Linked DNA regions of Homo sapiens: regions 1, 2 and 3 are each reported to be linked to region 4. Evidence: microRNA targets listed by miRTarBase, many of them from high-throughput screens and not tested one by one. Region 4 holds a microRNA gene; each other region holds the end of a gene's coding sequence.

Evidence for each region. The annotated mature microRNA hsa-miR-1233-5p reads AGUGGGAGGCCAGGGCACGGCA and lies in region 4 at 3,023-3,044, opposite strand. An mRNA with a match to its seed (bases 2 to 7 or 8) in the 3' UTR can be bound and repressed. Matches are read on the target gene's strand: a 7mer-m8 pairs with bases 2 to 8, a 7mer-A1 pairs with bases 2 to 7 and ends in A, and an 8mer does both.
Region 1: the mRNA of SCAND3 is a reported target of hsa-miR-1233-5p. Seed matches in the 3' UTR shown: 7mer-m8 at 2,537-2,543.
Region 2: the mRNA of PLAGL2 is a reported target of hsa-miR-1233-5p. Seed matches in the 3' UTR shown: 7mer-m8 at 4,018-4,024, 7mer-m8 at 5,777-5,783 and 7mer-m8 at 6,035-6,041.
Region 3: the mRNA of AHR is a reported target of hsa-miR-1233-5p. Seed matches in the 3' UTR shown: 7mer-m8 at 3,917-3,923.

The regions. Positions count from the first base shown.
Region 1 is chr6:28,565,676-28,573,625 of GRCh38, reverse strand. It overlaps SCAND3 (SCAN domain containing 3), which reads left to right. Exons shown (of 4, transcript NM_052923.2): 4 at 1-3,091. The coding sequence ends at 1,715. Among named protein-coding and RNA genes, the nearest start is that of SCAND3, 18 kb to the left of the region's middle.
Region 2 is chr20:32,191,376-32,199,325 of GRCh38, reverse strand. It overlaps PLAGL2 (PLAG1 like zinc finger 2), which reads left to right. Exons shown (of 3, transcript NM_002657.3): 3 at 1,644-6,822. The coding sequence ends at 2,874. Among named protein-coding and RNA genes, the nearest start is that of PLAGL2, 12 kb to the left of the region's middle. RefSeq lists an enhancer at 2,261-3,023 and a silencer at 7,807-7,950.
Region 3 is chr7:17,340,844-17,348,793 of GRCh38, reverse strand. AHR (aryl hydrocarbon receptor) reads right to left here. Exons shown (of 11, transcript NM_001621.5): 11 at 2,647-5,873. The coding sequence ends at 5,730. Among named protein-coding and RNA genes, the nearest start is that of LINC02888, 30 kb to the left of the region's middle.
Region 4 is chr15:34,525,325-34,533,274 of GRCh38, forward strand. It overlaps MIR1233-2 (microRNA 1233-2), which reads right to left and starts at 3,047; the gene lies at 2,966-3,047. It overlaps GOLGA8B (golgin A8 family member B), which reads right to left. Exons shown (of 24, transcript NM_001023567.5): 11 at 7,522-7,638; 12 at 6,637-6,675; 13 at 6,324-6,371; 14 at 6,151-6,235; 15 at 5,945-6,054; 16 at 4,858-4,944; 17 at 4,643-4,750; 18 at 4,338-4,425; 19 at 3,694-3,950; 20 at 3,283-3,426; 21 at 3,048-3,148; 22 at 2,865-2,965; 23 at 2,598-2,753; 24 at 1-2,510. The coding sequence ends at 2,308.

The sequences.
Region 1 (7,950 bases), not on the chromosome of region 4:
TAAAACCACAGTGTATTATTTGTGGAGATGTACTGGCTAATGAAGCAATGAAACCATCAAAACTTAAGCGACATTTATATTCAAAACATAAAGAAATAAGTTCACAACCAAAAGAATTCTTTGAAAGAAAGAGTAGTGAATTGAAAAGCCAACCAAAGCAGGTGTTCAACGTTTCTCATATAAACATTAGTGCTTTGCGGGCTTCATATAAAGTAGCACTTCCGGTTGCCAAGTCTAAAACACCATACACAATTGCTGAGACACTAGTGAAAGACTGCATCAAAGAAGTTTGCTTGGAAATGTTGGGTGAATCTGCAGCAAAGAAGGTAGCTCAGGTACCACTTTCCAATGACACCATAGCTCGACGTATTCAGGAACTGGCTAATGATATGGAAGATCAACTCATAGAACAAATAAAACTAGCAAAGTATTTTTCATTGCAACTTGATGAATGCAGAGATATTGCTAACATGATAATTCTTTTAGTCTATGTGAGGTTTGAACATGATGATGATATAAAGGAAGAGTTCTTTTTTTCAGCCTCTTTGCCTACAAACACAACTAGCTCAGAACTGTATGAAGCTGTAAAGAATTATATTGTTAACAAATGTGGTTTGGAATTTAAATTTTGTGTAGGAGTATGTTCTGATGGTGCAGCTTCAATGACAGGAAAACATTCTGAAGTGGTAACCCAGATTAAGGAACTTGCGCCAGAATGTAAAACAACACATTGCTTCATTCATCGAGAAAGTCTTGCCATGAAAAAAATATCAGCTGAACTAAATAGTGTACTTAATGATATAGTAAAAATTGTGAATTATATAAAATCTAATTCATTGAATTCAAGATTATTCTCTTTATTATGTGATAATATGGAAGCTGATCATAAGCAACTGTTACTGCATGCTGAGATACGGTGGTTATCACGGGGAAAAGTTCTGTCAAGAATGTTTGAAATACGAAATGAACTCTTAGTGTTTCTGCAAGGCAAGAAACCCATGTGGTCCCAACTTTTTAAAGATGTGAATTGGACAGCCAGACTTGCTTATTTGTCTGATATCTTCAGTATTTTTAATGATCTTAATGCTTCTATGCAAGGGAAGAATGCAACTTATTTTTCAATGGCAGATAAAGTTGAAGGACAAAAACAGAAGTTAGAAGCTTGGAAAAACAGAATTTCTACAGATTGTTATGACATGTTTCATAATTTAACAACAATTATCAATGAAGTAGGTAATGATCTTGATATTGCACATCTGCGAAAAGTTATCAGTGAACATCTTACAAATTTGTTAGAATGTTTTGAATTTTATTTTCCATCAAAAGAAGATCCACGCATAGGAAATTTGTGGATCCAAAATCCATTTCTTTCATCAAAAGATAACTTAAATTTAACTGTAACTCTACAGGATAAGTTGTTGAAGCTGGCTACCGACGAAGGATTGAAAATCAGTTTTGAAAATACAGCATCACTTCCTTCATTTTGGATAAAAGCTAAAAATGACTATCCTGAGCTTGCTGAGATTGCTTTAAAATTGCTGCTTCTTTTCCCCTCAACATACCTCTGTGAGACCGGATTCTCTACTTTAAGTGTTATTAAAACAAAACATAGAAACAGTTTAAATATACATTATCCCCTGAGGGTAGCATTGTCATCAATCCAACCTAGATTAGACAAATTAACAAGCAAGAAGCAAGCTCACTTATCACATTAAAAGCTTTAAATATTGATATGTAAGGTATTGGTTCAAAGTATGCATATAAGCATTGAGTGTGAGGAATTTGCTATTTCACTTTAAACTTTCTGTCTAGTTACAGTTATGGAAGTATGAGAAGTTATGAGTGAAACAGCAATTTTCTATATAAATTGCCTATATGTATATTTTCAATTAAGAATGTGTACAGTTTTTATAATTCTATTTTTCCTCATATTTGTCGTATTTATTAAAATATAATTTTAAATCTGTTGATTCTAATATTAAAACATTTGATCTTATATTTTGTGTCTTCTTCTTGTATTTCATTAGCATGTTAAGATTGTAGGACAACTTCAGGATGGGAGATGGTTTCTTTGAAATAGACAAGGTCAGTGAAAGGAAGTGAATTCAAAGGGGTAGGCTTAGAATTCAAATGCAGGGGACAGGTCAGTAGGGTATGAAGTTTGTTAAACTGATCCAGAGTGGTTAGGTTGGAAGTTGATGTTGTTTGTTTTGTAGGTGCATGTTTAGACAAAGATGGAAGGGAACACTTATTTTGTAATGGTGTTATGGCCTTGGATTCATATTGATAAATTTATTTACTTATTTATTTTTGAGGCAGGGTCTTGCTCTGTTGCCCAGGCTGGAGTGCATTGGTGCAATCTCTGCTCACTGCAACCTGTACCTCCTGGGTTCAAGTGATTCTCTTGCCTCAGTCTTCCGAGTAACTGAGATTACAGGCACCCACCACCATGCCTGGCTAATTTTTGTATTTATAGTAGAGATGGGGTTTCACCATGTTGGCCAGGCTCATCTTGAACTCCTGACATCAGATGACCCTCCCACCTCGGCCTCTCAAAGTGCTGGGATTACAGGCGTGACCTGCTGCGCCCGGCCGATAAATTCTGATTTCATAAGGATGGGCGATTGGGCCATACTGACAAGTTTATGTTAGGTGGTTTCTAGATTTTGCTAGAACTGATTGCCTTTAAGGTGCTCTGGGACAAAGTCAGAAATTATTGGCACCTCAATTAGATTTAACAACCTCTATTTTGTTTGGAGATGATTCAGAAAAATGCCACAAATATCTGCTCTTGTGTCTGTGAACTCATTTAGAATAATCGAAAGCAAATTAGTCCGATAAAACAGGTTCTTTAGCATCAAAACATGACAGAATCCATGAAGAAAATATCTTTTCCTAGACAGGGTAGCAATTTACAGTAAGTGCTTCGTTTCAAATAAATGTGATATTCAAAGTTAAGGAAAGGAAGGCTATTTAGTGATTCAGAATGTTACTAATAATTTAACCTTTTGGTAATGGAAGTTTCAAGGATCCTCCAAACCTTTGAAAGTAGAGGAAAGGTTCATATTTAGTCCTGAAACCTTAATTGGATTATGTTTTATTGTGTGTTTGTTTTAATCTTACAGCTTTTCAAAAACAAAAAACCTTATCATGGTGGATAGATTTAGAAGACAGTGGTTTAATTTCTCCCACTGACAAATTATATGCCCTCTTTCTTATCTGACCATATTCTAGAACTAAGGGATTTTAAAATGTTTTACAGTTTGTTTTATTGATTGAATAAAGTATTGTGTTTCCCATTTTTAATTTCAAAAGGCAATGTGGTGATTTTATATTTATTTCTATAAAAACTTAAAGTAGTCTGGAAGAAATTAAGAGGGAATTAAGAGTACATATTAAAAGAGAACTAAATTCCCTTACTTTCTCTCTAAGAAATATAAAGTATTAGATGTTTGAGATTGGTACAAAGCCTTCACTTTCTCTCTAAGAAATATAAAGTATTGGATGTCTGAGATTGGTACAAAGCCTTCTCATATACTTGAACAACTATTTTTATTTTTTTCTGCAAATGATTCAGTGCCAGGAGGCTAACTTGCTTTACCTTTTTTTTAAGACATAGGAATATTTGTCTTTCCTCCCTTACCTCCCTGTTTTATTGTCTCACTGTAAATTTTTTTAGGGCAACAGCTTTATTGAGATTTTTATTGAGATCATGAAATCTTACTGCCTATTCTTAACGTGAATTTGATGACTAGTGATTCTGTAGATAACCTGATTTTCTCTTCCTATTTTCTGCTTGTTTTGCAGCAAGTTCACATGTCTATAAACGTGGTATATGAATACAATGCAAAGGTATCTTTATTTGTGTATACTTACAACTACTGTATGCAGTACTGTTTATTTCCATCTATCATGTATATATGTGCTGGTTTTAAAAAATTGTATTTATGTATAACAGGAGGTTGTGTTGGGCTTTTCCTATTACTCAAAGAACAGCAACTAGGGAGGAGTCAAAGATGGGTCAAGGGAACGCTAAGTACTTCACTTTTTAAAGAAATCTGACAATGACTAGAATCAGAAAACCCCACCACCCACTGCCTCCATGCACACACCCAGACCTAACTTGAAGGATGATTAAGAAGTCGTAGAACTAGCTCCCAAAATTGTGCTTTCTGCCAAAGGAATCACTGGTAGTGATTGAAGATGCCTTCAGGAAGGAAAGACTTGTATTTTATTTCCAGATTGGGTGTTAATTTAGGCAGCAAACTTGTTCATCTGCTTTCTGCCTACTTTATCAGGAAAATAAAAGGGAAGGTGGGGTGGGGAGGGGAGGCGATTAGACTTGCAGTAGTTCAGTCTGTAGTCTCACAATTTGGGGTGGCAAAGATACGCAAGTTTCCTGTGGGTCAGGTGACACCAAGGAATGTAATTAATTCTGACCTCTCGGCTAGTGTCACATTCAGGAAAACTGTCCTTCAGCCTGGAGAACTCTCCAACAAAGCCTGTGGGCATTTATAGCTATGGACAGATGAAGGAGGTAAAAGCCATTATCTATCTATTTATATATTTGTGGGTAAGGCCCCCACAAATATCTTGGAGAATTCTCACATGGTCCCCATGAAAGAATGAGAAAGCTTGAATTCTGGGGCTTAGAGGGCAAATTACAAATTTACCCTTGGTACCCGTATGTGTGCGCGCGTGCACATATTTTGAAGTCTTTGGTCTAGCCCTGGTTTGAGGAAGCAGGATACAAGAGGGAATTGCAGCTAAGGGGCCTGATGGCCTTTGCAACCTTATACCCAGATTCCTCTATATTACCCCAGCCACCTGGATGAAAGACCACTTCTCCTTCAGCTCTGCTGGTGAGAAACTTGAGAAAGAACCAAAGTGAGGGGAAACCCAGGGTGGGGCTTTTATGGCAGAGAAAGGAGGGTAGAGATTACTTGAGTGATCTCAGTGGTGCAGTCAAACTCTGGGCTTTTGGAGTTTGGCTGTTCTGGTTTGGCTGGCTGCTTAGATATTTCAAAGACAAAAGAATCTTGAGTCAGGTTCTAAAAGGATCCCTGTTAGAAAGTGTCCCTTCTCTGATATATGGCTGTGTACTTTCTGCAGTGAATCTCTCCTGAATAACTCCCAGAATGTCTTTGCCAGTGTTCACCAAGATAGAAAGATTGTGAAAGTTTCAAACATTATACAATTAGAAATTATTATGATAAAGAATAAGACATTTATTTACTGGTTCAAAGAACATACTGTGTGCTTTGTATTCTGACATATGTGTGTTAAATTGAATTTATGATCAATTTGTTATGATTGAGAGAGTAATAGGAGTTATAGTTGTTTTAATAATCAAACCTTCGGCTCATTAAAATTATATAAAGGTGAAAAGCCTGAGGTTGTTATGGATTGCATGACTTCTTTTTTTTTCTTTTTTTTTTTTTTGAGATGGAATCTCACTCTGTTGCCCAGGCTGGAGTGCAATGGCATGTTCTCGGCTCACTGCAACCTCCATCTCCCGGGTTCAAGTGATTCTCTTGCCTCAGCCTCTAGAGTAGCTGGGACTACAGGCATGCGCCACCAAACAGGCTAATTTTTGTATTTTTAGTAAAGACAGGGCTTCACCATGTTGGCCAGGTTGGTCTCGAACTCCTGACCTGGTGATCTGCCCGCCTCAGCCTCCCAAAGTGTTGGGGTTACAGGCGTGAGCCACCATGCCCGGCTGGATTGCATGACTTTTAAGAGTTTATGCTGAAATAATGATGTGCTTTATTTTAGGATTTAAATGCAAATGAATTTGTGGCTGAAATCTCTTTGGGAGAGCAAATTTTTCAAATTGCCATTTTCTTCTTCCACTTGAAAGCAGAAAAACCTTCTTTCAGTTGATTTGAGGAACCAAAACTGAACTCAGAGTGACAGGAGCACAAAGAAATGCAAGATGATGTAGGTTGGAAAAAGATGGCCAGAACAGAAGCTGGTTCATAAAGATGAACCAAGTTGAGGAGTTTAGCCATAATCTTGGGGGCACTGGGAAGTCAATAAAAGATTGATAAGTAGAAGATGACTTGAGTTACATTTTAGCAAAGCTTTTCCAGGTACAATGTAAAAAATAGATTGGAATGCTGAAGGACAGCAGGACACTAGGAAGAATTTTGTAATGGAATAGATTTATGATAATGGTGTGAACTGAATAAATGGGAGTAGGGATTCAAGAAAGTGGATGTAAGGGAGGAGACCACCCCTCATATTGTCCTATGCCCAATTTCTGCCTCCAAAGAAAGAAGTAAAAACTAAAAGGCAGAAATGAAATCCACAAGCAGACAGCCCAGTGCCACGCCCTGGGCCTGGTAGTTAAAGATCAACCCCTGACCTAATCGGTTATGCTATCTATAGATTACAGAAATTGCATAGAAAAGCACTGTGAAAATCCCTGTGCTGTTCTGTTCTGTTCTAATTACCGGTGCAGGCAGCCCCCAGTCACGTACCCTCTGCTTGCTCAATCGATCATGACCCTCTCACACGCACCCCCTTAGAGCTGTGAGCCCTTGAAAGGGACAGGAATTCCTCACTCCGGGAGCTTGGTGGTTGGAGATGTGAGTCTTGCTGAAGCTCCCAGCCGAATAAAGCCTTTCCTTCTACAACTCGGTGTCTGAGGGGTTTTGTCTGCAGCTTGTCCTGCTACAGACATATCTGAAAGGCTCCATATTATAAAGGTGCCAGTTAGCAATTGTATTGAAAATACCAGTAGAGGCCAAGTGAAGTAGCTCACACCTGTAATCCCAGCACTTTGAGAGGCTGAGGCAGGAGGATCACTTGTGCCCAGGAGTTTGAGACTAGAGTGAGATATGATTGTGTCACTGTACTCCAGCTTGGGCTACAGAGCAAGATCCTGTCTATCCCTCAAATTTTTTAAATTAAAAATATTTTAAAGATAAAATAAATATGTAGTAGGATGGGTCGCAGACAAAACCTCTCAGACACCGGATTTAGGAAGTAAGAGGCTTTATTCGGCCGGAAGCATCAGCAGACTTGCGTCTCAAGAACAGAACTCCCTGAAGAAAAAGTTCCTGGCCTTTTTAAGGGCTTACAACTTTAAGGGGTCCACGTGAAAGGGTCATGATTGATTATGCAAGCGTGGGCTACCTGACTGAGGGCTATATGCATCAGTGGTGAGGGCTAGCAGAACAGAACAGAAAGTTTCACAATGCTTCTCCATACAATGTCTGGAATCGACCAGAGCTTAACCGCACATGCGGTTAGGGTGGGGGTTAATCTTTTACATTCAGGCCTGGTCAGTGGCGTCAGTCAGTCTGGCCACTGACCCTACTTCTGTTATTTTTCAGCTTTTACTTCCTCCTTTGCAACTCTACCACAGGAGGCAGAGGGAAAATCCAAGGAAAATGCTCTCTTTCCTCAAATACACCAATAGAGGTTTCATACTATGCTACAACTGTGTCTAGAATAAGAGCAAAAGTCAATACTTGCTTAGAGACATTTAAAAACAAAAACAGGAGAAAATTTGCATTATCAGATAACAAAACTTATTATAAAGCTATAGTGCTTAAGACATGATATTAAGACAGCAATTGATAAACCATTAGAACAGAATAGGGAATCCAGAAACAATCTTGTGGGTATAAGGAAACTTGGTATATAACAGAAGTTTGCTCCTCAGTGAGGAAGAGAAAAAATTGATGGTCCATTTAGAAGAAAATGAAATTGGATCCCTGCATTCTAAATATTTTAGACTTAAATGTGAAAGTCAAAGCTATAAAACTTTTTGAAGAGAAAGTGGGAGAATGCGTTTTTGAACCTGAAGAAGGAAATAGTTTCTTATGATGCAAAAACACAAACTATAAAAAAGAAATCTAGCTGTATTAAAATGATTAACTTCTGCCTACCATAAGACACCATCAAATGTGAAACCATTAATCAAAACTGGAGTGTATATCT
Region 2 (7,950 bases), not on the chromosome of region 4:
AGGTTGACAGTAACCCACATAGGCACGAGCACTCTTGAGCATGCATATGTGGGATGTGGGCAGGGGGTGTGTTTGATACCCTCCAGGTAGAAAGGATCACAGAGTGCTGTACGAGAGAGAGACAGCTGTTGCATACCTGACTGAACATAGGTCTTCCGAAGGCCTGTTTAAATTCAGCCTCTGCTAGGGTGAGGGGGCTGCCTTTTTTTTAGACTCCTTTCCTTGTCTGGAGATCAAGGTTAATGACACAGCTTATGCAGAGCCTGGCAAACAGTGGGTGCTGAGTTGATTCTGAATATGCTCTGGAGCTGTGAATTGCAGTTCCTGGATTCTGAGCCACTTTTCAACCATATAGGATCAGGTAAACCAAGGGACACTGAAGTGCCATACCATTAAAACATTTCTTAAAGTGTTACTGGTTTATATGACAAGCAATTCAAGTGGTACATACTGGCATGCAGTGAAGAATGAATGATCCTCACACTCGAAGTCACTATTCCTCTCCCCAAAGGCAGCTGGTGGGTTGGTTTTTGTGTATCCTTCCTAAGACATTCAAACATGTATATTCTCTTTCTTTTTTATTTTCAAAACAGATTGTATCACATGTACTGTATTGAACTTCCTTTTTTGACTTAGCCCTGTATATCTTGGAAATTTGTTCTAGATAAGGAAGTTTATTTATTTATTTAGAGACGGAGTCTTGCTCTGTCACCCAGGATGGAGTGCAGTGGTGCGATCACAGCTCACTGCAACTTCAAATTCCTGGGCTCAAGTAATCCTGCCTTAGCCTCTTGAGTAGCTAGGACTACAGGTGCATGCTGCCATGCCCATCTAATGGTTAAGATTTTGTAGAGACAAGGTCTCGCTATGTTGTTCAGGTTGGTCTGAAACTCCTGGGCTCAAATGATCCTCCTGCCTCACCCTCCCATAGTGCTGTGATTACAGGCATGCACCACTGTGCCCAGACTGCACGTTTAGGTATATTTTATTTTCTCTTTATTGTATCATTTAAAATTATTTAAATGTAATGTTTAAAAAATGAAATACTTTCACGTAATTCAAAATTCAAAAAGTACCAAAACTTATACGATGAAAATTCTCCATGACACCCATCTATAAGCTGTTCGGTTCTTTTTCGCATAGGCAGCCACTGGTATCAGTTTCTTGTATGTCCTTCCAGAAATATTTTAGCCATATACAAGCAAACATACATATATTTTTCCCCTTTTCACATAGAGTCCTAGTCTACATCCACTATTCTGCCTCCTTGCTTTTTTTCTACTTCCTGTCTCTTAGGAGCATGTTCCCTGTAAGTACACAAAAAGCCTCATTTTTGAAAAGTTGAGTCATTTTATGGACTTATCATAATTTATGTAACCAGTTCCCTATTGATAGATTGGACGTTCAGATTGTTTCTGATTTTTTTTGCTACTACAAGCAATGCTGCAAAGAATGTCGGTACACATTATTTTGCAGATAGGCAAGGATATCTGTAGAATATAACTGGTTTGGTATTGCATTGCAAGCCTTTACCATGGTTTTTATATCTAGTTTCCTGTTAATGGACACCTTTGGTTGTCCAGTCATCCCTTGTGATCTCCCCTCTTTCTGCTTTCTCCCCTATCCCCTGTCTCTACCCCCAGGCACATGGCCACCCACTCAGCCCAGAAACCCCACCAGTGTATGTACTGTGATAAGATGTTTCACCGCAAGGACCATCTGCGGAACCATCTGCAGACCCATGATCCTAACAAAGAGGCCCTCCACTGCTCTGAGTGCGGTAAGAATTACAATACGAAGCTGGGCTACCGGCGCCACCTGGCCATGCATGCTGCCAGCAGCGGTGACCTCAGCTGCAAGGTGTGCCTGCAGACCTTTGAGAGTACCCAGGCCCTGCTAGAGCACCTGAAGGCCCACTCACGCCGGGTAGCAGGCGGTGCCAAGGAGAAGAAGCACCCCTGTGACCACTGCGACCGGCGGTTCTATACTCGTAAGGATGTACGGCGGCACCTAGTGGTGCACACAGGCCGTAAGGACTTCCTGTGCCAGTACTGTGCCCAGCGGTTTGGCCGTAAGGACCACCTGACGCGTCATGTCAAGAAGAGCCACTCGCAGGAGCTGCTCAAGATCAAGACAGAGCCCGTGGACATGTTAGGCCTACTCAGCTGCAGCTCCACAGTCAGTGTGAAGGAAGAGCTGAGCCCTGTGCTGTGCATGGCCTCTCGGGACGTAATGGGGACCAAGGCCTTCCCTGGCATGTTGCCCATGGGCATGTATGGTGCCCACATCCCTACCATGCCCAGCACGGGCGTGCCACACTCCCTGGTGCACAACACGCTGCCCATGGGTATGAGCTACCCTCTGGAATCCTCACCTATCTCTTCCCCAGCTCAGCTCCCTCCAAAATACCAGCTTGGATCTACCTCATACTTGCCCGACAAATTGCCCAAAGTGGAGGTGGATAGTTTTCTGGCGGAGCTTCCTGGAAGCCTGTCTCTCTCATCCGCTGAACCCCAGCCCGCCTCACCTCAGCCGGCGGCAGCTGCGGCCCTCCTAGATGAAGCACTGCTTGCCAAGAGCCCCGCCAACCTCTCTGAGGCCCTCTGCGCTGCTAATGTGGACTTCTCCCACCTACTGGGCTTTCTTCCACTCAACCTGCCCCCGTGTAACCCACCTGGGGCCACAGGAGGCCTGGTCATGGGCTACTCCCAGGCTGAGGCACAGCCCCTGCTTACCACTTTGCAAGCTCAGCCTCAAGATTCCCCAGGAGCTGGGGGACCACTGAACTTTGGGCCTCTGCACTCCTTGCCTCCTGTCTTCACGTCTGGCCTGAGTAGCACCACCCTGCCTCGTTTCCATCAAGCATTCCAGTAGCCCCCACAGAGGCCCTCAGCTCAGTTTTTGGCTCTGTTATGGAGCCTTAGTACCCACCCCGTCTGTGTCCCCCATGAAGGCAGCTGAGCTTTCAGAGCTGGGTTCAAAAAAAAAAATTCCAGTGTCTGTATACAGGAGCACTTGGTTTGGGGGTTCAGGCTCTAGGATCGATTCCAGAAGGAGCCTTGAGCCCCAACCCCGTGAAAAGATCTCATACCGTAGGACTTCAGGTATTATTTACTTTTATTTTTTTGACCTGAATCGGGAGCCACACTTGGCCCTCTTCCTCTCCAAAGCGCCAGAACCTCCTTCTCTTTGGAGAATGGGGAGGCCTCTTGGAGACACAGAGGGTTTCACCTTGGATGACCTCTAGAGAAATTGCCCAAGAAGCCCACCTTCTGGTCCCAACCTGCAGACCCCACAGCAGTCAGTTGGTCAGGCCCTGCTGTAGAAGGTCACTTGGCTCCATTGCCTGCTTCCAACCAATGGGCAGGAGAGAAGGCCTTTATTTCTCGCCCACCCATTCCTCCTGTACCAGCACCTCCGTTTTCAGTCAGTGTTGTCCAGCAACGGTACCGTTTACACAGTCACCTCAGACACACCATTTCACCTCCCTTGCCAAGCTGTTAGCCTTAGAGTGATTGCAGTGAACACTGTTTACACACCGTGAATCCATTCCCATCAGTCCATTCCAGTTGGCACCAGCCTGAACCATTTGGTACCTGGTGTTAACTGGAGTCCTGTTTACAAGGTGGAGTCGGGGCTTGCTGACTTCTCTTCATTTGAGGTCACATTTTTCCCCCGTGGGGAAATAAACTGACTTTGGACTGCTTCAGTCTCTGCCATCTTCCATGACTGCATTTGTTCCTGCCTGCCTCGGCGGTATCCACAGAAGACAGGCAAGAGGATTGGAGCAGTTTTCTCACAGGTCTGCAATTCTGTTTTTCTCCAAGTACATTATGACCCCCTCATCCTTCTCTTGAACTGGAGAGGGGAAGAAATGAAAGGCATGCCCACGTCCGTCACCTCCCCATCCCCTAGTCCCCACCTTGAACATCATGAGCTGTTGTTATTAGTCTTGGAAGCAGAGTCTGGGTTGGTGTGGATAGCAAAGGAGGAAGTCTGAGCCCCTCATTGGTCTTCCTCCCACCTGTCCCTTTTCCGGGAAGTTGTGGAATTGTTGGAAGAAGAGTTTGCAGAAGGTTAGGAATGGGTAGATAGCTAAGTCCTAATCTATGGGTACATTGTTGTGTCCCAAACCAAAATTTTCCTTATCCACAATGTCCCTTCTGTCTCTTCCACTTTACAGTGGACTCGGCCACTGTGCATAGGCTTCTCTGCTCTCCATCAAATCACTTCCACTTTCCTGTGCCCCCACCCCCGCCTCCAGTTTTCCGCTAGTATCCGGCAAGGTTTCTTGCAACAAATGATTAGTTCTTTTCTTCTGACTCGTGGGGCTCCCTGCTGCAGAGAGCACAGCCCTTGCCTGGAGCCCAGGAACCCCATCCTTGCTTCATCTCAGTTCTTCATGGGCTTCACTCTTCCCACTCACGGAAGGGAGGTAGCTCAGGGACCTCCACTGTGGGACCCTTGAGACGCTTCCACTCTGATTCAGAAACACACTTCTACCTCTTTACTGTTAACTCTTAACAGATGCAGTCAGCAGTTTCTGGGCACTTCTCTCAGTAGGTGCCTCATGCTGACTTCTCCAGTAGGGTTTCAGGACAAACTACCAAGGAATTGCCTCAGCCTCCTACCAGTCCTCCCTCACCCACCTTCTGTCTAGGTTCACTTGGTTTGTCATCAGGAACTGAGCAGGTCCAGGACTCAGCTTTCTGCTTCAGCCTAAGCCAGTACTCCTTGTTTGAGGTAAAAGCCTTAAAATTTAGCTCCCTAGCTCTTGATTAGAAGCAATTTGGAGTAAGTGTGTTTTGATTTAGGCAGGGTAGCTTGGGATACCTTTTTAAAAACACCAGATATTAAAATGTCTGGCAAGGTTAGAATCAGACTAGATGATTTGCTTCTAAAAATTAGTTTCAGTGAGTCCCAGGGACTAATTAAGGTTTATTTTAAAAAGTGTCTACCTTGGTACGCAGCCACCTCCTGCATGCTGTGCATGTTATTGGGACTTGTATTATAGGTGATGGTATGTGAGAATCCAGTTGGGACTCGCTGTTGCCATCCTCTTTGTTGTATCTGGTTTTCATCACTAGACTCAGCAACCCTTCTCACCTTAACTGCCACCTTCCCTACACTCTCAGTTTACAGAGGCCACTGGGCCTCTGGCTGCAGAATACAAAGTCCCGGGCTGTTAGAGGAGTCCTTTCCTCTCTGCCTGCCCTTTCCTGTCCCTCCCTCGAATTCTCTCTCCCCGTAAGTGATGCTGGAAAAGTCATAGGACTGGCAAAGCAACTGTTTAAACCCTTTGTAACCGGGGCCTTGCCCCCACCTCCTGTCTTTTCTCCTTGCCTTCCCCACTCCTGTGTCCTCCCATCTATCCTGTCTTTCCTTTCCTCCTCTCAGTGTCCTCAGCACCCACAAGGAATTTTCCTATCACTGTGAACTTTGCTGGTACAGAGGAATAATATCTGCCTTCACCTTTTTTTTTTTGGACCATAGCTAGCCAGTCATTTCTTAAACCTCCCTTCCTAAAATCTGGGGGGTCGGGGGGAAAGAAAAAAAAAGCCTTAGTGGCCTGGTTGTTCAAAGGATAAGAATAGCTTTATCCTGCACTCAGTACCCGAACTCACTTCAGTATGCTTACTGAGGCCATGAGAACCTGAGGGGCATCTGCCCAGGACAGGAGCCATGGCATATGACAAAGACCAATGAGGGACCAGGAAAAAAAGTGATGTCCCCTTTCCCTGCCACCTCCAGCCTCTGCCAGCAATGAGCTGTCCCCCTCCCACCCTACACAGTAGCTGGTCAGGGCTGAGTACAGTCCTGGGGGTAAGGGGATGACATGCCCAGGTGTCAGCTCAAAGGATCTCTGCATCATCTTGAGGTGGGAGGCAGGGAAAGGAGCGCCAATGAGGTTCCCTGCAACCCCCGCCCTCCAGCCCACCGCCCAACCTTTTACAAATGGCATTTTCTTAATTGAAAATCCGGGAAGCAGGTGTGATTACTTTTTTGCTCGTAGATATTGTCCTAAGTTGGAATTCTCCCACTGCCCTAAAACTTTCCCTAGTAGTCCTTTAAACTCCCCCCTCCCTTTTTGGTAGCTGTTTTCTCCGTCCTCTCTCCACCTGCCCTCTTATCTAGGAGCTGTTTGTAAGCACGATTTTTTTAACAGGTTATATTGTACAGGATCAATATTTTGCTTTTTAACAAGGATATTTATGTAATAAGAAACTTTGCCTTAGGCAGGTGTTGGCCAGAAAAGTCCAGATTCCTCTGGGATCCCACCCTGGCCTCTCCTGGAACTCTGAACCTGCTGTGGAAGGAATTGGCCATGACCTTCACCTCTGGAGAGTAGGGTCTATGGCGAGGGAAAAGGGTGTTCACCATGATAACCTAGTGCCTCCATAGAGGGGTTTGGAAAAATTCCAGTCCGATTTCTTTGTGTGTCAGCTGACTTCCTTAGCTGATTGTTCCCACTTGCACCTCTCCACCTTTGGCACTAGAACTCCTGAGACACCACTTCTCATGCTTCTCCCTCCCTACCAGCGGTCAAGGCTTTGGAGCCACTCTTTTGTAACTCCAGATTATTTAAAGAGAAAAGTACAAGACAGAAATCTTCTAGCACTTTGTAAACACAGTGAATAACCTCTTGGAGTATTTTTGGCTTTATATAAAACAAGGTTTTTAATTGTAAAGTATAAGTGCCATTAGAAAATGCACAGGGCATATCTTTGTTAAAGTAGATTTTTCAATGTTTTACAGAATTACATTTTCAAAAAAAGGTTTTTATAATGAAGTTGTTTATTAAAAACTTCTGAATGATGTGTTTGGGAGTTGTGAACCTGTCTGATTGGGAAACGGTTGGAGAGAGCCTCGAATTGGGAAGAATTGGAGTCTCCAGACATCTTTAGCATCCAGGATGATGGTGAGCGTAGGGCAGACAGTAAAAACCCCTCCCATCAGCACCTATAAGCTTTGTACTTTTAAGTTAAATATCATATTTGCATGTCTTTGAGGTAAGTGGCATAATTCTATCAGTTAATCATCTTGGATGCAAGAGTCAGACAGCCAAAATCAAACTGGCTTTAAACACTGAAATTGCATGTAACTGGAAAATGCCAGATGTAGAGCAGTCTTTGGGTTAGGCTTGATCCAGTGGCTCCAACATGGCTGGCCTCAGCATTCCTATTTCTCTCTGCTCTGTCTTGTGTAGTTGTGACTTCATCCACAGGCCCTACAAAGTAGATTTCCCCTTTGTGTGGGAGTGAGCAGAATGCTGCCTGGATTCCAGACCTGCCATTCTCACACATTGCCAGCCAGAAGGAAGCAACCCTTTCTGGGCTCTCAGGAGAGGACTCACCACAGAAGCCCCAATAAGCATCCTGTTTCATTGGCCTTGATGGGATTCTGTGCCATCCCCAAACCAGTTACCATATGCCAGTGACAACAAGACTGAAACAGGAGTGGTTTCTCAAAGGAAATTTGGGGCACTCTTAAGATGAAGAATTGATGCTGGTTGTCCAAGAAAGGACAAATGTTCACCCTAGTCACTGCCCAAGGTGTACAGCTGGTGACAGCTAGGACCTGACCTTACCTATACTTGTGCCCAACCACCGGGTTCAGGCAGACTGCTGAGAGGCTTACATAGCTTCACCTGACTTTGGTGGTCTCTAATGAAGGTCGTTACCACCATCCTGGGTGCCAGCCCTTGTGCTGAGATCCTCCCATCAGGGGCTCAGACTGAACTGGCTTTTCTGTGGTCTGGAGCCAGTGTCTATGGCCAAGCAGTGCAAGTCACTTGCAGTCCAGCCAAGAGCCTATGGGGCCGTTAACAAGTGCAGGTGTTTTATGTACAAAGGAAGTGGGCTGACCCTTCATTTTTGACCTTCCACTTGACAAATGTTCACTGTCCACCCCAGTAGGTTAAAACCCTAGCTAGGACCCTAAGGAAATCCA
Region 3 (7,950 bases), not on the chromosome of region 4:
GTTAATGGGGACTGATGTCAATGTATAGCTTTACCTCCAACTAAGAGGAGGTTGTGAAGATACAGGAAAATAGTAATGAGAGACATAAAGATACTTGCTATGTGGCAATAAAAACTGTACTTTTATTAAAAAGTAAAATCTACTGTGGAATAATTTTAGATTTACAGAAAAGTCAAAAGGATATAGAGTTCCTTTACTCTCTTCAGCCAGGTACCTCTAACGTAGTATAGCCATGGTACATTGGTCAAAACCAAAAAATTAACAATGATGTGGTACTATTAACTAGACTTAGAGTTCTGCAGATTCTCAGTAATGCCCTTTTTCTATGAAGGATGCAATCGGAGATATCACATTAAGTTCAGTCATCATGCCTCCTTAGCCTCCTCTGCTCTGTGATAATTATTCAGTCTCTTTCTGTGACAGTGACACTTTAAAAAATCCTCTCAGAAATTTTGTGGAATGTCCCTGAATTTGCGTTTGATGTTTTGTCATAATTAGACTATGTGTTTTTAAGAAAATCAGGGAGCTTTGAGATGTACACTTCTCAAAGTATCATATCAGATAATACATGTTATATCAACATGACTTTTCACTGGTGATGTTAACCTTGATTACTTGGTTAAAGTAGTGCTTGCCAGATTTCAACAATGTAAAGTTATTTTCTTCTCTGTCTGTACTCTATTCCTTGAAAGCAAGTCATTAAGTCTAACTCATCCTTCCAGGGGAGGAGAACTAAGCTCATGCATCAGAGGGCATAGTAGCTACCAATATTATTTGGGATTCTTCTATAGGAAAGATGTGCTCCTTCTCCCCCATTTATTTTTCAACCATTTTATTTATATTAGTATGGATTCATGGATATTTACTTTATTCTTTGTGCTGTAATCTAATGCTATCATCACTTATTTAGTTGCTCAAATTATTCCAGTTTTGGCTACTGGCAGCTAAGTGATTTTATATAAATCACTGAATCCTCCAGCAATCCAGTGAGGCAGGTACTGTTAGCCTTAGTTTACAGAAAAGGCATCTTAGGCTAAGAGAAAGTAAGAAACCTTCTCAATGACATCTTATTTGTGGCAAAGCCAGGATTTATACCTAGTAGTCTGACTCCAGAGTCTGTGTGTTTAGTTTGGCTATGCTATGCTGCTCTCTCAGGGAAAGAATTGCTTCACAAATGTCAATCAGAGGTAAGGCATTGAATCACTTCTTCTTAGACAGTATGTACAGAAAGAGCCACAAATGGTCAAAACTAAGCCTGCTGCCAGGTGGGAGGAGGAAAGAGTGGTTAACAAAGGAAAGAAAAGGGATAATAGGAGCTTACAGGACAACTAATGTCATGGAAGGGAAGAAAAAAGTTCATTGAAAGTGTAATCAGTTTGGTTGCAGGGCCATAGAAAATGAGCCTATGGTAAGAAGTTTAGTGAACCGCAACACTGCAATATAATGGAAGGATGGAAAACAAAACCAGATCTCAGGAGATCAAAACTGTTGTTACAAAGGAAGAAGGTAAAGAAGTAATTTAATAGAGAAGAAAGTGCAGGTTCAAGTAATTTTTTTCCAGGATGGAGGAGGACCTATTCACAGGAAATCCTACAGAGAAGGAGAGCCTCTCAGAAAGCAGGTGTCGAAGCTGTGTGCATGAGAACGAGAGAGGACGGGGGCTAACCCTGGAGTTCAGGAAACTCTCCTCCTCACATACTGGAGGTAAGTCCAAGGATAGAGGAATTGCTGAGGTGAAGGTACAAACTTAGGATGATATCCTTGATTTTATTAGTAAAAACGGAAGCAAGGTCATCTGCAGACAGTGAAAGAAATGAGAGATGTCATCCAGCCCTGTCAGTGGCCAACATCCCTGGGTCGGTGTTTGGTAGAGCTGGTGAAATTGGACAAGCTAGAGTCATTCATGGTGACAGAAATCACCTAAGCGCAAGCAGAGATGCACTCAGGTTATCAGGATTTTTACTTGATTTTTTTCAGATCAAATAGTTAAAACTAAATATTTTATGTAATTCTTAAAGACTCAGGATTAGTCTAAAATGTTCAGAATTAAGTATGATGCTAACTTATGATATGCTAGTTGAGAAAAATGCCTAATTGTAAAGAACAAATATAAAACTAATAGAAAAATAACTGTCACAAGAATGAAAACATTTTCTCAGGAATTCTTCTTCAATCAATTCTAATTGCAGGGTTTTCCATGAATGTTCAACAGTTATGAATTTAAGGCCAAAGGCTTCTGTATCATTTATACTTATTAAACAGAAATACTAAGTTTGGGCAATGGTTTTTCTAAACTAAGCACAAAATACAGCTAACAAGGGTTATTTCGAATTTCTTCAGAAATATTCTTAAAATATTAAAATAGGATTTTGGATTTTAATCTAAGACACACTACTACACTGATAACACAGGGCTTTAAAAAAGTTCATTTCAGAAGCATTTTAATTTATGAAGCTACTGAGAGTGTTTTTTATATCCAGATAAAGGTCAGACATTGGGGGGCAAAATTGTATAAGAAGTTTATGAATTACTGACTTAACATATCCCTAAGTATTGTAGATTGCCCTCATCTAACATAGTTATAATACTACAGAATAAATAATTTCCTTTACGTGGACCAGAAAGAATTTACATTAAAACATATTATTCATATTTGTTATTTTATTATATATTATTGTATACAACTTTGATAATGAGGATATTATAAATCATACTTTAAGCAAAAATCTATGCATGATATATGTAAGCAGTAACATTTTGAAGAAAAAAGCCATGAAAGCATTTACCTAAAATTTAGTAACATCGAAAAACACTAGTTTGTGCATAGTAATGTTGAAAGCTTCATAATACACTAGAATACTGGTAAGTCTTCAGGTATTGTAAGAAAAACCTGGTACAGGAAAAGACTAAATTAGACACATCCATATCCTTAGATGTGCACATCATCTAGAAATAAATCCCACAATGTAGCAGTGCACTAAGTATCCTTTGTTTGGCACTTAACAATACAGACAAACGTGTATTTGGTTTAACGTGATTTTATTATTCTTAGATACATTTTAGTTATTTTATATAGATAAAAATATACAATATTGCTTTTCAAACTTTTAATTTTATAACTGTATAACTGATTGTCATCATATTCATGATTAAAAAGCCTATTTTCCACTAAACAATTTATCCAGTAACATGTGGAAGAGAGTAACAAAAATGGTTTATGTAAGACTTATAATAAAAGGTTTAAATGTAAAAATAGAGTATTAATCTAGACCTCTGGTCTAAATCCTTAGATACCTCATGCTGGAAACAAATTATGAAATGTTTCAGACAAATTTTTTCCAACACTTAAATTGATTCTACAGGTTTAAAGTTTTGACTGAAAATACACAGAACTCAGAGATATTTTGTCCGAAGCCATTTTTATATACATTAACTTACTAAAAAAAGTAAAAGAAATAAAAATTGTATTTTTTTTTTTTTTGGAGACGGAGTCTCGGTCTATTGCCAGGCTGGAGTGCAGTGGGGCGATCTTGGCTCTGCAACCTCCGATTCCCAGGTTCAGGCTATTCTCCTGCCTCAGCCTCCTGAGTAGCTAGGACTACAGGCTCACGCCACCATGCCCAGCTAATTTCTGTATTTTTAGTAGAGACAGGGTTTCACCATGTTGGTCAGGATGGTCTCCATCTCTTGACCTCGTGATCCACCCTCCTCGCCCTCCCCAAGTGCTGGGATTACAGGCGTGAGCCACTGCACCCGGCCAAAAATTGTATTTTAATACATCTCAGTTTGGGATTCCATCAGATTTTCAAATAATACATGCAAAATGTGTCTAAGCTCTTCAGCTCTCATATCTAAAGAAAAGAAGAGCTGAATGCAGTGGCTCACGCCTGTAATCCCAGCACTTTGGGAGGCCAAGGTGGGAGGCTCACCTGAGGTCAGGAGTTTGAGACCAGTCTGGCCAACATGGTGAAACCCGTTTCTACTAAAAATACAAAAATTAGCTGGGCATGGTGGCACATGCCTGTAATCCCAGCAACTCGGGAGGCTGAGGCAAGAGAATCACTTGAACCCAGGAGGTAGAGGTTGCAGTGAGCCAAGATTGTGCCACTGCACTCCAGTTTGGGCGGCAGAGTAAGACTCTCTCTCAAAAAAAAAAAAAAAAAAGAATAAAAGATGGTGTCATTTTTTCTTTTAAACCATGTTAGGACAGTAAAGTTGGTAGGGTGATTAATTTGCCTATTGGTAATGAAGATCAGTATATCATTAAAAAAACCTAAAGTTTGAAGGTAAACGAACTATGTGGTTGTCTTTTTATTAATACCAACTTTAAGCAGTTGGATTCATTACTTGATTTCTTAGAAAGACACATTGATAAAGTATGTAAAGCCCCAACAAATTAAGTGCATATATAAGGTATGGACTTTTTAAAATGAAAAACTGCAAATATCTTACAAATAATTTTGTTCATTATATCTATACAATGCACCATTCAATTCACTCATTACAATACTTTGCACCAAACCTTGCTATCTGCAATCTTAACACTCCTCAAATATGAGAAAAACACATAGTTTCCACTGTTCTAAGAAGCGAAATTTATAAAGTCAACACAATATATTATCAAGGATTATAGGTCTAAAACAGTTTTTAAAGACAATTTATACACATTGAAATGGGTGCTTTGCTTAATTAAAAAGCTAGAAATAAAGCTTCTTGCAATTTAATAAACAAGGTTGCAGTTAACAGCAGATTTTTCACATTGCAACATTCAACTATCATCATGGAGATATCAATAAAGGTAAAGAGTGGTATATTTATTTCTTCTGAAAACACTGTTGAGGAATTTAAGTGCTATTGTCTTAATATTTTTATAATAATTAAGAAATAATTTGGAAAGACATTTTACTTTTAAATTTTTTCAACATAAGGCACATAGCAACATTTATAGTCTAGAAACAACTAAATTATGTAATAAATAATTATTTTTTCGATCATTATTTGCCCTTTACCTGAAGAAAGTAGGTAAGCAGTGGAGTTAAAATATGCCTGAATTAATGAAAATGGTTGGATTTAGGAAACACAAATAATATTTGTGTGCAGAAAGATATTAATTTAAAAAAGAAAAAGAATACTTTATATAAAATATACATCCTAGAGTGTTATAGGTAGAAAAAAATGTGAGGCACTTAGATGAAACAGTGAAGGAGGAAAGCACTGAGATTATCTTTTTATAAAAAGCACCAAACCATTTATTTTAACATCTGAGATAAAAGCAGAGGTTAACATGATAGGAAAAACTAGTTTAGTTCTCTAACTTTGTATTTGGGGAACTAATAAGAATCCAGTAGCTCAAAACTCAAAGTATTTTATTTTTACTGTGACAGAAATAATTCAAATAGAGAATATTTTCTAATTTAAAAGAATCTTAGTTTCCCTGATAAAGTTTTGTATATTTTGTGGTGCCCAGAATAATGTGAAATGTAGACGGTACCTCACCACTCCGTGGCAGCACCCTTTCTATCTTGACTGTAGTATATGTAATTTTGATACCATTTTTAAACTCCCTTTTCTAAAAGCAAAAATTAAAATTTGGTTTGGAATAATTGTGAATAGCATGCATCAATGCCTCCATGTGAACTTGCTGACGTCCAACAGTGACAGTTTTATTTTTCCATAATCCTTCACAAACTAATTTAATCCAAAAACCAGGGTCAAAATTGGGCTTGGAATTACAGGAATCCACTGGATGTCAAATCAGGAAAAGGTCTGGCTTCTGACGGATGATGAAGTGGCTGAAGATGTGTGGTAGTCTGAGTGTTATTTATGTTATTTAATTCAGCTGGATATGTTTCATTTAAAACTCCATTCTGAAACTGAAAACAAAAATGGTGATGCAACTTATTGGAATAGATCTTCCAAGTATCTTAAGCCAGTAAATAACATTAACATGTATTTTTAAAATCTTACCCCTGAGAGTTGTAAACTTCAAGTTCCTTTACTGTTGCTAAATTTTAAATCTTTCACACAGTGAAGACATACTGAGGACATATTATGTATTAGTTGCATTTATAACCTGTTTTTCCATTAATTTGACAGGAAATTTTGAACATGGTACAGATGAGTGATGCAGCTGTCTCATTTCAGATTGCCTTTGGGTCAGGTAGGAATTGATGGGTCAAACAGCACAAGTCACAAATTACAGTTAAATATTCTCTATCATAAGTAGGTTTGCTTTGACCAGGTTTGAAGTTATAGGTATCAATGAATTGATTATATTCAGGAATCTTACACTGGAATGCAAAACTTTTCCAAAAAAGGCAGCTTCTGATTTTCTAAATGTTTCTAAATATTCCTAAAATATTACACCACAGGTATGATTTTCTTAACCGATTTCTTATTCATAATATACTTTTAATTAATGAATACTACTGAAAGCATAGTTCTAATTACAGAATCAAGTTACCAAAAGAAAATGCTCTGTCTTGTTTTCTTACACTGCAATGAATCTGGTTTCTATAACTGCTAGTAGAAAAAAGAAAAATAAAAAGGAAGGACATGAAGATGTATAGCTCTGTAGAGTTTTATAGATTACAGAGCCTTTATATTTTAGTTAGTGGACGTTCTGGAAACTTTAAAACAGATTAAAATCATATCCTTAATTGCTTCAAATAAAATCTACCTTTGTAAAGCCTACATAACTGGCTTCAGTAATCAAAATGTTAATTACTTCACAGATCCTCCAAAACATATATAAAATCTATAGTAAAAATCATATAACCTGTATCTTCAATGAATGGCAACACTGTAAATTCTTTAAATAAAAAGTTAGTATTACCTGGCCAGATAATGGTGAGTTTAAAATGATTTTTTCTCATTACTCATAACACAATTCATGTCACCATTCTCTTTAAACATACTGTACACAGCAGTGTAATCCAATAGAAATATAATGTGAGCCACATACAGAACTTAAATTTTTGGCTACAGTAGATTAAATAAAATACATTTCTAAAGTTAATTTTACCTGTTTCTTTTTACTTTTGTAATGCGGCTACTGAAAAAACTAATCATTTCAACATGAAATCAATAATAAAAGATGAGATATTTTACATTCTTTTTTCAAGCCAAGTCTTCAAAATCCAAAAATCCAATGTGTACTTCACACAGCACATCTCAATTTGGACTAGCCACATTTCAAGTGCTGAACAGCTACTCAGTGGCTCAATATTGAGTGTCTTAGCTCAATAACATGTACTCTGGAACATATGTAGGTCTATAGAATTATTTGGTTATTTACAAAGAAGCAGTGAAAAGTAGTGAGGGGAAAACACTGCAAAGAACTTATGTGGTACTCATGCAACTCCTTATTCAAAATGTAATTTTACAGAATTAACTTCTGTACAATTTGCTTTACTCAAGAGTAAAATATACTTTCATAGCAATTTTGTGAGACGGACTATAACTGAATATTATTCAATTTTAATATAATTGAAGGATGTAAGGAATAAGAAAAATTTTCACTGTCCTTTTCTATTAAAAAGCTCATATACGATTAGACAAGCAAAATGTATGAAAAAGCCAGAAAATACAATTAAAGATAAAGCTTCAGGTCATACTTTTAATTATTATACTCTAATACAGAGTAAACAGGGGTCAAGGAGCTTAATTTTAGTCAAGATATTCTTTAAAACTAAACTTAAATATACTTTAAAATGAACTAAATATTTTCTAATGGAAAAAGCATAAATGCAAACATGATGTATTCCTGAGTGGCCAGAGACAGCAGTTACTGACATTATGTTAACTTTTTTTTTTTAAGTGATCATTTTTAGATTTAAAGTGTGCTCACTGCCAGACGGATTCTGATGACACATTTAAACAACAAAAATGCACTATCAAGCTTGATTTCCATGACAGAAAGCCAGCTGAGTTACCTCTTTTAAGAAAGCC
Region 4 (7,950 bases):
CCAGCAGTCAATAATGCCACTTTAGGCAAAAGTCTTTCAGTATTTCTGTTACACATTCTGTTAACAAGAACCCATACATTGGTAAAATTCATTCTAAGAAAACTTGGCAAACAAAGCTTTGGACTGGAATTGGCATTTCTTTCTCTACTTTTCCTTCCCACCATTTCTTTCTTTTAAACTACAGTATTCATATTTTAAAATGTTTTAACTTATTTCAGAACATAAAGATAGCAGTTACACTTTTAAATATTTATATTATTTTAAAATGACTCTTTAGGATACAGTTTTAAACCCACGGGCTAGAAATCATACCACTATTAGCCACATTATTTGGTCTAATATTTTTTCTTTATTATTCTGAAACTGGGTTTATCTAATACATTGATAAATTCATACAATTCGGAAGAGTCAGTTGAAGTCACAAGGACCCAATATCTGCCCTCTTTCAGTGAATGCCGGCAAATCTGTTATTCCATTGGCAAAATCGTATTGCTGCTCTCCTGTTAATCTCCTATTTATAAAAGGATCATGAGGCTGCCAAGTGCTAAAAATGGAGATGGTCTAGTAACTAGAAAACTCCCCACCCCAGGGAGCACACATACATATCTCCCTACAACCTAATAATGTGATGTGTTTTGGAACACAGACATTAGAACTTCATGAAGTTTTAACTGTTGATTCTTTCCCAAGCATCATCAAGTTATGATTTAGGCAATGTATGATTGAAATGCATTCACTCATCACGCATAGGCACAATCACAGAAATATTGCACAAAATATGTCCCTGACTGAAACTGAGAGGTACAAAAACATATTTCACTCTTCGTAAAGAAGTTTGTGAGGAAATACAACTCTGCGATCGTATAGACATGTTTCCTGATAATACATTGACATTCACAAACAGTAGATTGCAGCACAGTGTGTAAACATTTTCAGTTGCATAAACTTCTCCTTGATTTTCAAAGATAATATAATACTGTCTACTAAAATTCCTTTTTGTTTCAACTAAGTACTCTCACATATATTAGTTTATAATAATGTTTGTTATTATTTTCTAAAGTGTTTTCCACTCAAGGAAAAGAAGTAAATTCCTATGTCAGAGTAACCGAGGTGGTTGAAGAATAGGTATTAGCCAGAGAGGTCTAGATAGTAAAATCAAACTTCAAGCCTCAAAGAAGCTCCATGAACAGAGAGGAATGCCAGGTGTCACACAGCTTTCCTTCACTCTAATTCATTCTTGACTAGAGCCTGTATGCCTGTTTCAGAGACATTTAAACTCTTAAAGGATGTCTTATGATCTTTACTAAATACATTAAGAAGAATGCCAACCAGCGCCCTTTCGTGTACTGGGACAGGTAGTCATGTGATTAAAACAGGGAACACGAACTCTGACTTTAAAATGTATTGTAGATACAAATGCTCTAAGCTAGGAAAGGTTTTCCACATCCACAGCCAACGATGGCAGCCTTTCATTCCTCGGAAATAAGCCATTTTTAGGTCACTGAAAAAGAGTGCAACTGCTGCAGCTCACGATGCAATATCTTCATGAGCCCAGAGCACATACAAATCCAAAGGGAACTGCCACAGTACAGTGCTCATTCTTGGCACCGGAACAGATGAAACACACTGTATCCTGCACATACCTGCCAGAGCAGGCCACTTTCCTCTTCTGCGAGATTTAGAAAGCTCCCCCAAAAGGTTATCACTCCCATCACCAATACACAGAAAATGGAGGAAAGGCTGTTTCCAGTTCTCGGCCTTTAAACAGCTCTAAGTGTCAGTACTCATAGTGGCATATTACAAAGTAATAAACAGTGCACACTTGAGGGCAAACCGCATATTGAGCTATGGAAGAGCTCACTGTGATTAAGATGAGATCAAACATCATAGCAGAACATTAGCAAATTTTATCTGAATTCTGTAATGAACATCCATGCTGCAATAACATTAAAAAAGCACGGGAGCCTATTCCAAACCAGCGAGAACAGTTTTGTGCAAAGAGTGGGTCTTTGTGTGTTTGAACTCCCACCACGTAAGGGCAAACTCGATATGCATGCTAATGACCTACAATTATGAAATGAAAAAAGAAAAATGCTAAAGGATGCCAGAGTGAACATCAGTGAGAGGCACAGAGACCCACTCTCTTTTAACTTTTTACAAATAAACTTAAACTATAAATTAGAAACACAAATAATCATGAGTAGCTCTAACATTCAAATGAAGTAAATGAATTGTGTAGGAGATTAACCCCATAACTTTGTTTCGTTTTTAAAAATTTCTTGAGCAGCTCTTTGATGATGGTGGTGTTTATCTCCTTCTTCTCGGCAGCCAAGCCCAGCAAAAGCATGGCACACAGCAGTTGCTGCCCAAGCCTGGGTGCTCCTGGTGGTCCTGCATCTCACCAAGGAGCTGCAGGACTGGCTGTGCAGTAGGGTTGTCCTGGGAAGAACCCTCCCTGGCTTCTCCTTGTGCAGGCTCCACGCTGTTGGTGAGGCTCGCCTCACAAAGATCTTTGGAGAGAGAGAGGCGGGGATCTGAGTGGAGTGCTAGCCGCCCCCCGCTCCTGCCTGCTCACCCCGCCTGGGGGCTCTACTCACCACCATGCTTGTCGGCAGCCCCGAGCTCCTGGGGGGCTGGGGCTCCTGGACTGGGTTCAGCAGCAGGGTTCCGGGCAGCGGCCAGGAATTTGCCGTGCCCCTCGCTGTAGCTGCCACAAGCCGCAACACCATCTCCTGCAGCTCCAGCAGCTTCACCTGAAGGGACGGGTGCTCAGCTGTCAGGCCGCTGCTGGCGCCCACCCTCATGCCCACCCCACCCACACCCCCACCCCACCCCCACCCCCACAGGGATGTTGCACACCCTACCTTCCTCTCCTCCTTGTCCTGGGCCAGCCTGATGATGGCCTCCTCCCGGTGACGCATCTTTGGCACTGTCCCCTGGCTCTGTTAGAAGGCGATGTACTTTCCTGCGGGAGGACAGGGCTCAGACGCTGGGGCCCCTCCCATAGCCCTGCAGCTCCCCCTGCCGTGCCCTGGCCTCCCACTCACTGATGGCATCTCTCTCTCCGGTACTGGATGAATCCAAGTTCCAGTTTCTCCACATGCTCCCTCAGGTCCGCCTTCTCCTCCAGGAGGTCCATAAGGCCGCTCTGGAGCCAAAATAATGGGGTCACATCTCAGCAGCGACCTGCCCCAGCCCTGCCCTTCTTGGCCCATGCTAGGACTCACTCCCCTCCAGCTTCTCCATGACTTCCTGCAGGGCCCGGAGGGTCTCCCCACTCACAGACTCGCCCCCAGTCCCTGAGGCTGGGACTGCTGCCTCTGGCTCCTTCTCGGCCGAGGTGAGCGTCTCCATCACCTGGCCCAGCTTCTCCTGCAGCTCCTTTACTTGCTGCTCCAACTGCAGTGCGCTCTTGTTCTCGTGCTTCTGGACAGAGAGAAGCAATCAGCAGCCACCCACTGCAGCTGGAGACCCCAGAACTTGGTGTCTGCCTCCCATGGCACCGGGAAGGGTGGAGCCAAGTTAGAAAAATACTCTCCTCTCTCCCACAGCCACCAGAGCAAAGCTCTGGCTCACAGGTGCCTTTGGAAGTAATATTTCATGTGAGGGCTACACTGCCCCATTTTACAGGTGGGGAAACAAAGGCCTGGAGGGCTAGGGAGGAGGGCAGGCTCCCCAGGTGGGGCAACCCACCAGCTCCTCCAAGTCGCTCTGTGGCTCGGCCAGCTGCTGAAGCCTCTTCTCCCGTTCCCGAAGCCTCTCCTGCTGCTCCTGAAGCCTCTCCTCCTGCTCGCGAAGCCTCTCCTTTTGCCCACGGTTCAGGAGACTGATGCACTGATTGTTTTCCACCTGAGCCTGGAGCTCTCCTGCCACTCTCTCCAGCTCCTTCCTCAGGTCTTGCAGCTCCACCTCAGAGGACACTGCTGGGGCATCCGGGGGCAGTGGCTCAGCTGAGAAAGGAAGCAGATCATAAGGGCCTCTGGATTCTCAAAACAAAAATCAAAACAGAAAAAACAACAAAACACCCTCCTGTTGGCGCACAGCTCCTCTCAGGCTCCCAAACTTGGCTTCACTGCTAACGATCCCTCGCACCCGGATGGTAGCCAGTCTTCCAAACCACTTTCAGATAGAGAGCACTGCGGGTGGCTGACAACGGGCCCTCTTTGCTCATGGGGACACTGAGGCTCAGGGAGATGACAAGACTTGTCTCCTGGCACAGACCTCTTTCCCTCTGCCTCAAAGCCCTGCCATCCACCCACCTCCCTGGGGCACTCTAAGCCACCCCCACAGCCCTCTGATGCCAGTCCTGCTCCCAGGTCATGCCAGCCCCATCTTACCCATCTGGTTTTTGAGTCTGGACAAGCTCCTCTCCAGCTCCTCTACCCGATGCGTATCATGCTTCTTCTCCTCCTTCAATGTGCAAACCTGCCCAAAGCACAGGGGGAAAGGGCCCTGGAGAGAGGGGCTGGTGGCTGGACAGGCTCCCATCTCCCTCTCTGCCCCCACCTCCACAAAGCCCAGACCCAGGACCACCTCTGGCTGCACTATTCCCATTTTAAAGAGGCCCAGAAAGATCCAGTGACCTATCTTAAGTTGTTGGTGGGGGGGGGGTGGGGCGGGAGGCTGAAGGGTCAGATCTCACCTCCTGCGACATTTTCCTCATCCTCTGCTGCCACTGGGCCCTCTCTCCTTTTATTTGTTCAGCATATTGATCTCTCTCCAGCTGGACTTCTTTAAGCGACTCCTTCAACTGCAAGAATGGCCACACAAGTTAGGAAGGGCCGTCACTGGTCCTCACCTGCTCCTGGCCACCTGGGGTCATCTTCCTTCCACATCCCTCCCTCTGCAAAACCTCACCTGTGTCACGTGTCCTTTCAGCAGTATCTGCTCCCGTATGGACTGCTCTAACTGCCGCTTGAGAAGTGCTTTACTGCGGCTCGAGAACTGGATGGTGAAGAGTGAGAAGTTTCGATCTGGGGAGCCTGGGCCATTCCACACAGTGCCCCTTAAAAGGGCTAGGGCTAGGCTCAATATACAACTCGGTCAGTAAAGATCAAGGCATTTCCAAGCCCGTGGTCTGGTTTTGAAAAAAACTCAGTGAAGTTGGAAGGGACAAGGAGAGAGATCAGATAATATTGCTATTGTTATTACTCCCACTGTTTGAACCTTTATGGAGTGCTTCAGCAGGTACCTTGCTAGCAATCCCATTTAATCCTCGCAACCACCAGAGGAGACAGTTACTATGATGCCCTCTCTTGGGTAGATGAAAAAACATGGAGTGTTTGAGGTTAAGTGCTTGCCTAAGATCACTTAGGCAGAGCTAGGATTTGAACACCCAGGTCTATCAGATTCTCTAAGCCCATTTTTCTGCTGGGGGTGGGGGCACGGTTAGGAAGGGGAAAATTAATCTTTTGTTCACTTTTTGAAAAGATGATACATTCACATAGTCCAAAACTCGGAAGGTATCAAAGGGAAGTATCTCCCAGCCACCCTGCTGCTCTCTCCTGAGTTGTTTACGAACACTTGCAGACATGTTTTATGTATATTATCATACTATGTACACACACACACACACACACACACGTTTCCTCTCTCTACAGAAATGGGAACATACTAAAGGTACCCTTCTGTACCTTCACAGTACAAGTACCCAATACCCCACACCCCACCTAGGACTTGGCCAAGACCACAGCCAGGTAAGGGCAGGGCAGGCACTTGGCCTCCAAGCTCTGCATCCAGTGCTCGCTCCCCACCGCGCCCCCCGACTCACCCACAGCAGCTGACTCAGCCTCAGGCTGCCTCTAACAACCATACACAAAAGCAGTGAGAAATGGCCATGCTGCCTTCTGGGCAGGACACTCCATCCTGCAGAAGGGACCTTTAGGCTCACTCCTCCATCTGTGAAGCCGGGCTCCCAGGGGACAGGGCAGGTGACTGGACTCACCCCATCCGGCTTCTTCTTCTGTGTGGCGGCGACAGCACAGAGAGACCACTCTAACTCTCCTATACGCTGCGATGAACGTTGCAGGCGGCCGGCCAGATCCTTGGACTCTTCTGTAATGACAGAGTTGACATGGGGCTCAAAGGACTCCGCCTTACAGACCTGTCAAAGTGCCAGGTTGAAGGATGACAGGGTGCCCAGATTCCCACCTTCAAAGTATCTGAGAGAATGTTTCATGTGATACAGGTCCGTATTTAGTTTCTTTTTCTCTGTGTTCAATCTCTGGATTTGACCCTTTGGGAGAAAAGCCAAGCAAGTGCTGAAATAGAAGGAAAGAAACATTCTCCGGAGGACAGGAGGAAACTTCACACCCTCCACTCACCTCTAGCTCCCTTTCAGCTTTCTGTTTCTCATTGTTTGCTTTCTTTTCCTATAGGAAGAGGAAGACAGAGCTCTTACCAGGGGGAGGCAGAGAAGGCACAGCAAGAGATATGCCCCCAGAATGCCACCAATGCCCCAGGACAGGCCCACCCATGGGACCCGGTTATCAGGGACCCTGTGGGGATGGGGTGGAATCTGAGGGGTGAGCCTCCTTCCCCAGGCTGGGAGTGGGTGAGACGAGACTGGGGCCTCTACATCTGAGTGTCCCCCAAACCCAGCAGTCATGTCGCCAGCAAACAAAGAAATCACGTTACTTCTTCCAGCTGATGTTCCACTTGTTTCTTCTGTTGTTTCTGTGGGGAGAGTCAAATTAAAGTGATGGAGGGTGGCCCCCTCAACTCTATTCCCCAGACAGGAAGCGGCAGGCAGGGGCCAGGAATGGATTTTAAAGGCAAAGTTCTCAGACCCAATGGGAACAGGAACTGTTCCCAAGCTCCCAAGGACAGAGGATTTGGGTCTTTGTTGGTTTTCAGCCACAGCCTCACAACTCAAAGTCTGAATCAGGAATCTCTTGAGAGGACAGTAACATAAACCTCTAGAGATGGAGTTTGAGAAAGGCTCCCCCTTCTGCCAGCTTGTGATTTAGAAAAGTGTGTTCATTCAATAGACATTTACTGAGCACGTACGGGCCAGGGACGGTTCTTCACAGCCGATATAGGATGGAAAAGAACAGACAAGAGCCCTTGGCCCTGAGCTTTCCATTCTAGGGGGCCTTTAAATCTCAGACTCTCAGAGCTAACAGAGACCTTTGATACTCACTACCTCCTCTGGAAACACGAGCCCAAAAAGGAGAGGTGGCTTGTCCAGAATCAAAGAGCAAATTAGGGACTGAGTCATGGCAGAAATACGGGGCCCCTGACAACCAGTCAGGCCAGCACTTCCCCAAGAGGCAACAACCCCAGGGCGTGTGTAGCAAGGACTCGAGTAGGGGTGCCTGGAGAGGAGAGAGTCGGCAAAGAGGGCAGCAAAAGAAGAGCCATGCTGCATGCTCTGGGGTCCCGCCAGGTGAGGCCTGGGCGCCCCAGCTCCCTATCTGCCCTTGGCACCAGGGGCCCCCAGCCCCCTTCTTCAGGGCCCCAAGGGGAAACCGGAGCCCAGGATTGGCAGCGTGGAATCAGGGGACCCCACTGGACTCTTACCAAAGATTTGATGGTGTCATTCAGTCGACTGATTTTTATGGACCTCGAGTTCAGGACTGCTGCTTGTTCTTGGCACGGGCTCTGACGCGCATGCAGAGAGGAGGAGGCGGAGGAGGACTTGGGGGAGAGGTAGAGAGAACGATCATTAGGGCTGGGTTGTGTGTGGGCTGTCTCAGCTGGCAGAGGGGCACCCAGTCCCCGCTGCGGGAGGAGGTTGGAGGGCTGGCCTGCGGGGTCACTGCACCTCCACCCAGAGCCTCCTACCTCCAGATCCTTCAGGGTAGCAGATGATGTAGGGCCCTCCCCGTGGATACCTGTTGCTGACTATAAGAGATGAGACTGCACATGGAGATGTTCTGTCCCCCTCAGTGTCTGAGCCCTCCGACTTCCTTTCTTCCCCATCAACTGGCAACATTTTCTTTTCTGCCT